Linked DNA regions of Homo sapiens: region 1 is linked to region 2. The links come from fine-mapping of genetic effects on gene expression. A gene starts in region 2. The other region holds a variant in brackets. All regions are shown on one strand. Distances are between the middles of the regions.

Region 1 (5,394 bases), 24 kb before region 2:
AGATGACATTTGAGATCGAACTTAGATGAACTTTTACCAAATAGGACACAGTCAAAAGGTGTGGTGATCCATGTAAATTGGCGGCATGAGGGAGAATTTCTGGGCAAAAGGCACTGCTGTGTTTAAGTAGAACCAGAAGTGGGCTTGTCTATGATGTTCAAGTTAATGAGCTCTTTATAATTAACAATCCTTTTGTTAAACACTAAATAATGGATATTTAATGGTTGACATTTCCATTTAGTTAGAGGGAAGGCAAGGGGAATTCAATAAGAATCACATAAACAGAAAAGACATTTTATGAATAGAAACATAATTTACTAATGAATTTTCCAGATGTTTTAAATTTTTAATTTAATTTGATTTAATGGTTTTTAATCACGTATTCTCTTCAATTACTAGGTAAAAACATGAACTGGAATAGTTATTTATAATTAGATTTGCCACATGTCCATATTTAATTAATAGCCTAAGAAAATACTTTATATTGCCTTTAAATAATTGTATGTTGATCCTCTTTTTTTCACTTTCCAAATGTCTTATTTTGCTGGGCTAAATAATTTCCAAGCTTTTAAAAGTTCTGTCTTTGCAACTTTACAACAGCCTTCGCTAGAATTTTAAGCCTTACAATGCTGAGTTTGTAAATGATTACAGCCTATGGATTCCAGAGGGACAGATGTTTCAGAAATGCCATTAATAGACATTCAGATGGCATCTCACCTGGGCCATTCCAAGCATGAAGGCAAAGGGACTAAGCAAGCTTAAAATCCACTCCAAGGATGCAGGAAGGTGTCTGTACAGTGATGTGAACCCCAGACACCCCCAAAAGACAGTGAGGAGGAACACGACCAGGCCGGTGAGGAAAGATTTCTTTACCAAGATGCTCATTAAGAAAGCCAAAGCTACCTAAAATGAGAGAAGATCTAGTTGGTTTATGTTTCTCTAACATTATTACTAGCATAATAAAATAGATATACAAAATTATAGTTATTTTGTGTATGTAACAGTTGTATATTATAGTTATTTTGTATATAACATACAAAACTATGCTCTGCAAATTGCACTAAAAATTGACATTACAAAACACCTCAAATCAAATTGTACCTGTTTATAGATTTTTCACATGCAAACAGAGTAGGTAGAAAAAAAAGGAGGCATACAGAGTAATCAGTCGGAAACAAACAATTTTTAGGCTATAGGTGGATGGAAAGATATTTAATTCACTAACTCACCAAAGATAATCCATACAGGAGAAAGAGGCTGAAGACTACCATGAAGCCAGACAAAATGATAAACTGGGTAGATCTTATAACAAGTGCCAAGAAAAGGGCCATAATGAAGATGAAACCAGCATAGAGCAAACCCCAGGAGAGCCTAATGTGGAAACAAAATGTTATTTTAGTATTTTATGTTCACTTGAAAAGGAAGACCTGAAATGGATTCTAAGATAACTCTTCATTCACTTATTCATCCATTCATTCTCTCTTTCAACATTTATTTATTGGGTGTTCTAAGATATATAAATACAAGGTAAAAGTTTTGGGCAGAATTCTTTAGAATTAGGAATATTCTTTGGGAATTAGGAATTGTTTTTCCTAAAATTGATTTCAGAAATACATTCACACACACATGCACATTGTTCTGGGGGGTGGGGGCGGTGGGGGGGGAATTAGGTTTCCAGTGTAATAGATTTTGGATCGAACATTTTATTTGCTGCATTCTTGCTCTGTAACCTTGGGCAACCTCTGTAACCCCTCTATTATTCCTTTATTTCTCTGGACACCAGGAATAATACTACCACTGAAGACTAAATAAGATGATGGCTATGTAGGGCACTGTCTTAATACAGGGTAGCCCCTCAGTGAACCTCAGACCCTTCTCTCCTCTCTGGAGTCTCTCCAAGTTCAGGACCATCACAAGCTTCCTCAGAGACAAGAAATTCTTCCTTATGTGTAATTTGGTCATGTCACTCCTTCCCCAAAAGCTGTTGTCATCTTTCTCTGGATGTGTTCACTGAAAAGTCTACATACTTGCCTTTAGTTCCGTTCATTGTTTTTGTTAAGAAAGATTTTTTTTGAATCCCATTCTTTTATGTCAGAATAATTCACTTTCCTTTCCTCATCAATTTCTTTTCTTTTGTTTTACAATATT[C/A]TTTGAAAACTATAATGAAATAATAATTTTAAAAAACAAAAACAAAACAGCTGCAAAGCCAACACAATAATAACTCACACACATAGCAATTAATATGCATTGAAGAAAACTTAGCAAACATTAAAGCATTTTATTCTCCCAATAGCCCTATTCAGAATACCATTATTTTCCTCATCTTATTGATAGAGAACCTAATGAACAAGGGTGTTATGTAACTATGTTTCAAGTTCAGGGGTTTTGGCTCTATAGTCTTTAGATTTCACTGCTCTGCTACGTTTCCCTCCAGTATTAATTCAAACAAGAGGTCAATATTGATGTATAAGATGTTAATACTGGAAGGAACTCTTCCAGACTCCTAATTTGTTGCCCTATGCACAGCCCATCTGCCTCCCTAGCCTCTCTGTTATTTAATGTCCTACTCCCTGTAAACATCACCTCCATGCTCTTTCAGTCAATTATTCATAAGTTCTCACACAGAACCTTGTCCATTCTTGGAATCACCCAACCTCTGACATTTTAAACCCACACTACCCAGCCCCTATTCACCATCCTGTTTTGCCAGCTCATTCCCTCAGGCACACCAAGCATGTTCCTCAGTCTCAAAGGAGTTCCTGGTCCTCGGCTTCTTTTTCCCTTTCAATCCCCTCCTAGCTCACATCTCACCTCTGTCTGGCACAGACACCATTGTCTATCTTGTTTACGCCTCTCTTGCCATGGCCATTCCTCATTACACCTTCTTCACAATCAACCAATAACCTAACCCCAATCTTCTTCCTTAACTCAGAGAAGCACAGTAAGACGCAGCCTCAGCCTGGCAAACATTACACCAATGACAGTTTATACCATTCATGGGGATAAAGGATTTTTATATTTCTTTCCTTGTTACTAAAGAATGTTTAAAAGTGGCATTTTCTTATTCATGGCAACACATTTTTTTAAATGGACATTGATGTGTGATAGTTGTGACATTATTTTTTCTGTAAAATTCTGCATTTGGCTCCTTATTTGTTTTCTCAAAGTTTTTTTATTTACTTTTTATGTTTCTTTAAAAGATTATCTTCCTCCTTTCTAAAAAAGTCAATATTATTCGTAATGGAAGTTGTATTTTCTTAAATGTTAGCACATTCTGTCCCCTTTTATCTTATTTCCTATAGCAGTTCCTTCACAGTACAGTGAATCTGAAATAGATTTAGATAAAATTGGGTCAGAGATTGTTAAATATATTAAATGACCAGCCTCTCTACTTAGTCCTGTAAAATTTCCAGAAGCAAAATACATTTCCTTTTTTTTTTTTTTTTTTTTTTTTTGTCCATCACTGCAGAGCATTTCTCCCCACTGAAATTAACTAAGTGGAAATTTGTTCATGATCTGAAATTATTCTGTGTAGGTATCTCTCATTTGTACCCCTTGGTTGTGGAGAAACAGGTTTTAATAAAGACGCATTGAAGAGGCCGGGCGTGGTGGCTCGCGCCTGTAATCCCAGCACTTTGGGAGGCCGAGGTGGGTGGATCACGAGGTCAGGAGATCGAGACCATCCTGGCTAACACGGTGAAACCCCGTCTCTACAGAAAATACAAAAAATTATCCAGGCATGGTGGTCGGCACCTGCAGTCCCAGCTACTTGGGAGGCCGAGGCAGGAGAATGGCGTGAACCTGTGAGGCGGAGCTTGCAGTGAGCTGAGATCACGCCACTGCACTCCAGCCTGGGCGACAGAGCGAGACTCCATTTCAAAAAAAAAAAGATGCATTGAAGATTCCCAGTTTTCCTGAGTTCCTCCGTTTATTTATTTGTGCTGCGTTTGACTCACCAGAACGCTGAATCCCGAAGACCCATCATTGTCATCAAGGCCTTCATCCTTTTCCTCTCTCTTGTGACATTAACAGATGCATAGTAAATGAATGAGGAAAATGAAATAATGCAGGAAAAAAGGTACAAATCAGTTATAACTCCTGATTGACCAATGAAGGAATGCATCTTCATATTTTTTCCAGTAACTGACATCAGCTCCTCCATCACTGAGTGATTTGTTGTGATCTGAAGAAAGGCATTAATAAGCAAAATTTGTACGTTAATGAACAGCATGCAGTTTTCTTTTAACCATCTATTTTCTTGTGGATGTATGATTGGCCTATTGGGATTTGATACTAACCTAAATTTCCACTTCTATGTCCTGTCATTGACCTGCTGGGACCTCGGAGTCCAGGCATTTTGAGTTACTCACCACTCTCAGAATTTACTGTGTGTTTCATTACCTCCCTGCCTAACATTACTTTATGATTTGCTTGGCATGGCTTTTCTCAATTTATATATTCAGTAAGCCACCCCTCATCTCAAGCTTCAAGCTGGAATGTTATTTCAATTAGGCATTCTTCCATGGCATTCTAAGGCTGAGAGGTTTTTACTCATTTACTTATGAGGACCTGATTTATAGTTCTGTAATAGTCTACTTCTGTTCTAATAATTTTCTTATATTCCTGGCTTCCCAACAAAGTTGAGTCCATGAATGAGATACTTTTTCTTCTGTTTGTATCTACATTCCGTGGTATATAGTAACTTCAGTAAACTTCAGAGTGAGCAAAGGAAATAACAAGGCTATCCACTTATATTTTCTTCCATGAAACTTTTGATGCCTCTAATATCATTAACTTGCATTAAACATTAGTTTGCTTTGAACATTTTGTACTCACTTCTATAATAGCAGCATTAATGGCAGCTTGAAGAGCCACAAAACCTTCCTTCCAAAATACTGAAACTTCACAGTAAACATCTTCATTTGTTTCATAACAATGAGCTTTGTGAAAAAACAAATCATAACTATCATTACATCACTATCTATATTATTGAAATATGATTTTAATACTGATTATAGCAAACAGTGGACTTTACAATGACCCCAAATTCCAAATGTTCTTATTTTGACTCAAAGCTTATGAAAACATAAATTATAACAATGATTCTCAAAATGAATCAGGCAGAATCATGAGGTGGAGCACTCTTAGGAAATGTTTTACATTAAATTATAACACTCTAAGCTTTCTCATACCGTGTCCTGTGCTTTTCTGCTGATGAAGAATTTTGTTGGTCTCTTCTCTTTTCTGATTTGTATTGTGAAAACTACATATTTTAATGTTTTTCAAAAGTTCACAGAGCCTAACATGGATTGAGAGACACTAAACTAAAGCTTTTTCTAACACTGGATATAACACGGGCATAATAGGCCAATGGAAGTTCAAGTAAGATTACTT
Region 2 (5,394 bases):
TTAAAGAACATACAAAGTAGATTCATTTTTTACCATCAAATGTCTATTAACTTTGCCAATGAATTATGCATTTCTGTAGCGAGGCTTTGATATACTTGGGCTTGTGCAGGAGGTGGAGTGTAGAAATTCCTCCTGTACAGGGCTTGCATTGGCGGCAGCTGCTTTAAGAACCCAGAAACTTTTGTCCTCTCTGTAGGCTAGCTCACTGTGAAAATATCCCATGGATTTTACCTAAAATTGCTTACAGAGAGTGGCATTATACTTCTATAGATAACTGCATCAGTAACCAGAGAGGAGAAGTACAGCAGTAGACTACCCTCTACCCCCTGGTAGGAGTAGTAGCACATCACAGTTTCAGCATGTTCAATCTTGAGCAAAGAACATGATGTGATTGTTTCTGGGTATGTCTGTATATGGGGGGTGATTTTGTAGGGGAATTTATACATACAGTTTATTGCAGCAGGCACATAAAATACTTCCCAGAAGAAGATAATTCAGTGCATAATAAGAGCACCACATCTTTCCAGAACTTCAATCAACCACTGCTACACAAATAGGATTTGCTAAGCCACTCCTGAAAACTGTAGGACTAGAGTGCTTTCAAATGGTCTTTGCCGTGGGAGAAAACAGGCTACCTAAGCTGAATTATAGAAAGTAAAGAGATTCTGGAAGGTACCATCATCAGTTTTCTGGGAAGCATGTGAAGGACATGACTTGGAAGAATGGGTCCAGACTTTTGAGCACAAAGCCAGCAGCTCCACCCTGAAGACCATCATTTGGCTCATAAGTCCTGACTTCTGAAGCAAGTGATCTCCCTCCGTATGCATGCCATGTTGGCCATGCAGTTTCTATGAACTCCTCCATAGTGATGAGAAGTGAATGAGCCCCAACTGAAGCCATCATCTCATTTATGGGACAGGATCACACACAGGGTGGTGCTACTTTCTAGAGCCAAATCTCAAGTAAGGTGTCCAGGGGTCAGTTGCAACAGAAGGCACATTAGCCACAGCAGTCTCAGAGAACACTGCTAGAAGAAGAACCTACACATGGCCATGCAATGAGGCTGAGGGGCAGGCCTAAGTGGAAGCAGACCAAGTAAAGAGGTCAGAGAGCCCATGGAAGGAGAAGAGGGAAAGACAGTTCCAAGAGTAAAGCAGCCTAGGTTAAGGTGCAGAAAATTCAGCATGGATACTTTTAAGAGAGCTGTGCAAGGCTCTCCTTACCTAAAATCACACTCCGTATACAGACATACCCACAAACAATCACATCATGTTCTTTGCTCAAGATTGAACTTGCTGAAACTGTGATGTGCTACTACTCCTACCGGGGGTAGAGGGTAGTCTGCTGCTGTACTTCTCCTCTCTGGTTACTGATGCAATTATCTATAGAAGTATAATGCCGCTCTCTGTAAGCAATTTTAGGTAAAATCCATGGGATATTTTCACAGTGAGCTAGCCTACAGAGAGGGCAAAAGTTTCTGGGTTCTTAAAGCAGCTGCCGCCAATGCAAGCTCTGTACAGGAGGAATTTCTTTTTTTTTTTTCGTTTTATTATTATACTTTAAGTTTTAGGGTACATGTACACATTGTGCAGGTTAGTTACATATGTATACATGTGCCACGCTGGTGCGCTGCACCCACTAACTCGTCATCTAGCATTAGGTATATCTCCCAATGCTATCCCTCCCCCCTCCCCCCACCCCACAACAGTCCCCAGAGTGTGATGTTTCCCTACACTCCACCTCATGCACAAGCCCAAATATATCACAGCTTCTCTACAGAAATGCATAATTCACTGGCGAAGTTAATAGACATTGGCCAAGAGGATGATCTCCTCACTATGGAATCAGCTACAGTCTTAGGTAGCATGCAAACTCCAGTCTGACTCCAATCCCTTATATCTTCCATCGTAAAGTATTATTGCCAACTTTGTTTCTTTCCAATTTTTGTATGTTCTGCAGTTTATGTAAAGGCTAGCAAAAACATGAATACTTTATTATACATATGGCAAATAGTCTCAAATTGTAATGACTCATTTTTATCCTCTTATACTGTTGTAAAATTCAGAACAACATGTATTCACTATAGGAGTATGAAAATTCTTTTTACCAATGTACATTTTAAATAACATTGTGGTAAAGAGAAGCTACATATTTCACATTCTGATTCAACTCACTGTATCCAACGAGTAAAAGATCCTAGAAAGAATCTTACATTTCTAAAATTCTTATAGACTAAGAGTGAGCGATAGGAACAATAAAAATATTTCTGTAAGTGCTCTTGGTAAACAGTCTTAAAGTCAGAAGAACACTTATCCAAAATGCCCTACATTATTGTGCAATCAAAGTAGATAACTTTAACTTCAAAAACAACTCAGTCTTCCAACCCAATTCTTAAAACTCTAAGCTCTTCACAAAAAATTTTTAGCCAATTTAAACTTATTTCTACACTCAGTTATGTTTAAAACAACATAATGTTTGCATAATTTTTTAAAAAACATTCTAACTCAATGTTTTTATTTATCTAATATTAATTACCAGATATAAAATCTTTAAAGTAGCCCAATATTTTTCAAAATAATTTCTGCATAGATGATTGTCATTCAGTTTATAAAGGTTTATTTATAATTTTGTGATAGGAATAAGAAAAGACAAAACCTCTGAAACAAACTCACACACAAAAGCAAAATACAAAACAAAACAGAAAAAATACAGTGAACTTACTTCTGGGAAAATGGAAGCAAGGAATCTAGAGGTATGGTTTATCCACTGAGCTCCTTGTTTAGAAGAAAGTTATTCATATTTTCTCCTGGTCTCTACCATGTATCTAGAATTTGCTTTAACTATTTGACTTCTGTGAAAAGTTTCTGTGAAGACTGCTTTCAGAGTGGAGGTTATGATCTCAATTCTGTTGGCCCTGCCAAACATCACATTCACGTCATCATGCTTGGACTGTTTGTCTTCTCATTGATATTCGGCCAGTTCCTGCAGAGCAGTGGCATTTATACTGGGTTGCCTGGCTATATCATATTATAGGGAGCAATTTCTCTTTTACGTCCAAGATTATTGTGGCTAATACCAAAATTTAAAGTGCTGTCTTTAAGCCATGAGAAAGTAAACAGCTTAATCAGAGAAAAGCTCTTCTCTCTACCCAGAGCTCTAGTCTGCTTAATTGACAGCTTTACCTAGATAATCAAAATTTTCATTCCTCTGCTTCCCAGCTTCATTTTCACTCAGTTCAGACTATTTTCCAATTTATTTGACCCACGGATTAATCAGAAATGTGCTTAATTTCCAAGTGTCTGAAGATTTTCTTATCTTTTGGTTATTGATTTAATTTTAAATCAGAAGTTCAATTATACTCAGAAAAAATATTTTGTATGTCAAATTTGTTAAGGCTTATTTGATGACCCAGGATATGATCTATCTTGGCAGATATTCCATAGGCACTTGAAAAGTTGTATAGTTTTTTGGTGTTGAGTGGAATATTATATAATATCTATTACATTTAGTTGGTTGATGATATTGTTCAGTTTTTTCTATATTTTTCCTAATTTTCTGTCTCCTAGTTCTGTTGATTACTAAGAGAGGAATGTTGAAGATTTTAACAAAACTTAGGGACTTTCAAATTTCTCCCTTTAAAACTATCATGTTTTGCCTGATGTATTTTGCAACATTTGGAATTGTTATGTCTTCTTGGTGAATTGACCCTTTTATCATTATGTAATGTTAATCTTTATCTCTAGTAACTTTTGTGTTCTAAAGTCTACTTTGTTTCATATTAATAATATAGCCATTCTTACTTTCCTGTGATTATTGTTTTCGTGGTATTTTGTTTTCATCCGTTTATTTTTATCTACACACACACACACACACACACACACTATATGCTTTCAGAGTGGCAGTTATGATCTCAATTCTGTTGGCCCTGCCAAACATCACATTCATATTATATGTGTATGCGTGTGTGTGTATGTGTGTGTGTGCGTCTGTGTTTGTTATTATTTTTTTAAGATGATGGTCTTGCTATGTTGCCAAGGCTGGACTTGAACTCCTGGGTTCAAGTGATCTTCCCATCTCAGACTCCTGAGTAGCTGAAACTACAGATACATGCCACTATACCCAGCTCTAAATTGTATTTCAAGTGAGTTTCTTGTAGATGGCATATAATAGAGTCATGAGTTTGGTTTTTAAAATCCAATTTGACAATGCACATCTTTTAATGGGTGTGTTTAAATTATTTTCATTTTATGTAGCTATTGATTTTTAAAATCAGATCTGCCATTTTGTTATTTGCTTCTTTTCTCTCTGGTTTTAATTCTCCTATTTCCCATTTTCTGCTTTCTTGTTGGTTATTTGAAATTATTTTTTGGTATTGCATTTCAACGTATCTATTATGTTTCTTAACTGTATCTATTTGTATAGTTATTTTAGTGGTCACTCTCAGGATTACAAAAGACATACTTAACTTGACATGCTTTACCCAGAATTAATATTTCTTCATTTTAAGTGAAATATATAAACCTTACTATGATATACAGACAAAATAGGAAGGAGGTCAACAAGGGTGCTGCTCAGTAACTATATAACCAGAAGGGGAAGAAATAGAGGAGTAAGAGGCTCAACATGGTCTCCATCACCCCAATAAAAAGTCATGATCTCTTGCTCAGCTCCTAGTCCTAAGCTACTTTTCAGATACAGAACATATTGATTAAAAAACTAGTCAGACCCCTAGAAGAAAAGATCTTGCAACATCTTGACAAGTATATACTGTGGTGATTATACTTCCTAGTCCTCCCTCAAAGGGACCTAAAGCCATTATTTGGGTGATTATACACTGAAGAAAGAAAAATCCCCAGACATGTCAAGGGTTGTTGGGCATAAAGTCAGAGTGGACATTGATAACTGCAACCCACACTAAGGCCCTACAGCTAGATTGAGAATATAGAGCCAAGGTCGTAAATGGAGTTCCGGTTAACAAGCAGCTCTGCCTCGTCTCACTGGACTTATGGACATACCCAGTGGTGATTTTGCTGTCACCAAATGTGCTGTTAGAATTGACATATCTAGTAGTTAGAATAACTTCCATGCTGAGTCCTTGGCCTGTAGGGTAAAAACTATCATAATGCAGAAGGGAAAGTGGGCACCTTTGACAATTCTCCCAACTTTATCCCCAGCCATGACACTTAATCAAGAACAGTATTCCACATGGGGAGAAGAAATGCAGAGACCAATGCCACAAATAGTGACATAAGGATGAAAGGTAGTGGTGCCTAGCACACCTTAATTTAATTTGCCAGCCTGATCCTTGCAGAAGCCAGAAAGATTCTAGAGAATGCTTAGACTATCTCAAGCTCAAACAACTAGTGGTCCTAATTAGAGTTGCTTTGTCAGACA

Direction of the effects. Positions count from the first base shown, and alleles are read on the strand shown. Sizes are in standard deviations (SD) of each study's normalised expression.
In carriers of allele A in region 1, the expression in testis of the gene that starts at base 2,895 in region 2 tends to be lower than with C alone (small effect, 0.38 SD a copy in GTEx).

The links.
Region 1: its variant is fine-mapped to the expression of ABCA8 in testis (GTEx, PIP 0.98).

The regions. Positions count from the first base shown.
Region 1 is chr17:68,928,332-68,933,725 of GRCh38, forward strand. ABCA8 (ATP binding cassette subfamily A member 8) reads right to left here. Exons shown (of 40, transcript NM_001288985.2): 6 at 4,837-4,940; 7 at 3,957-4,183; 8 at 1,230-1,371; 9 at 718-903. Among named protein-coding and RNA genes, the nearest start is that of ABCA8, 24 kb to the right of the region's middle. The variant C/A (reference allele first, on the strand shown) is at 2,149.
Region 2 is chr17:68,952,498-68,957,891 of GRCh38, forward strand. ABCA8 (ATP binding cassette subfamily A member 8) reads right to left here and starts at 2,895. Exons shown (of 40, transcript NM_001288985.2): 1 at 2,722-2,895.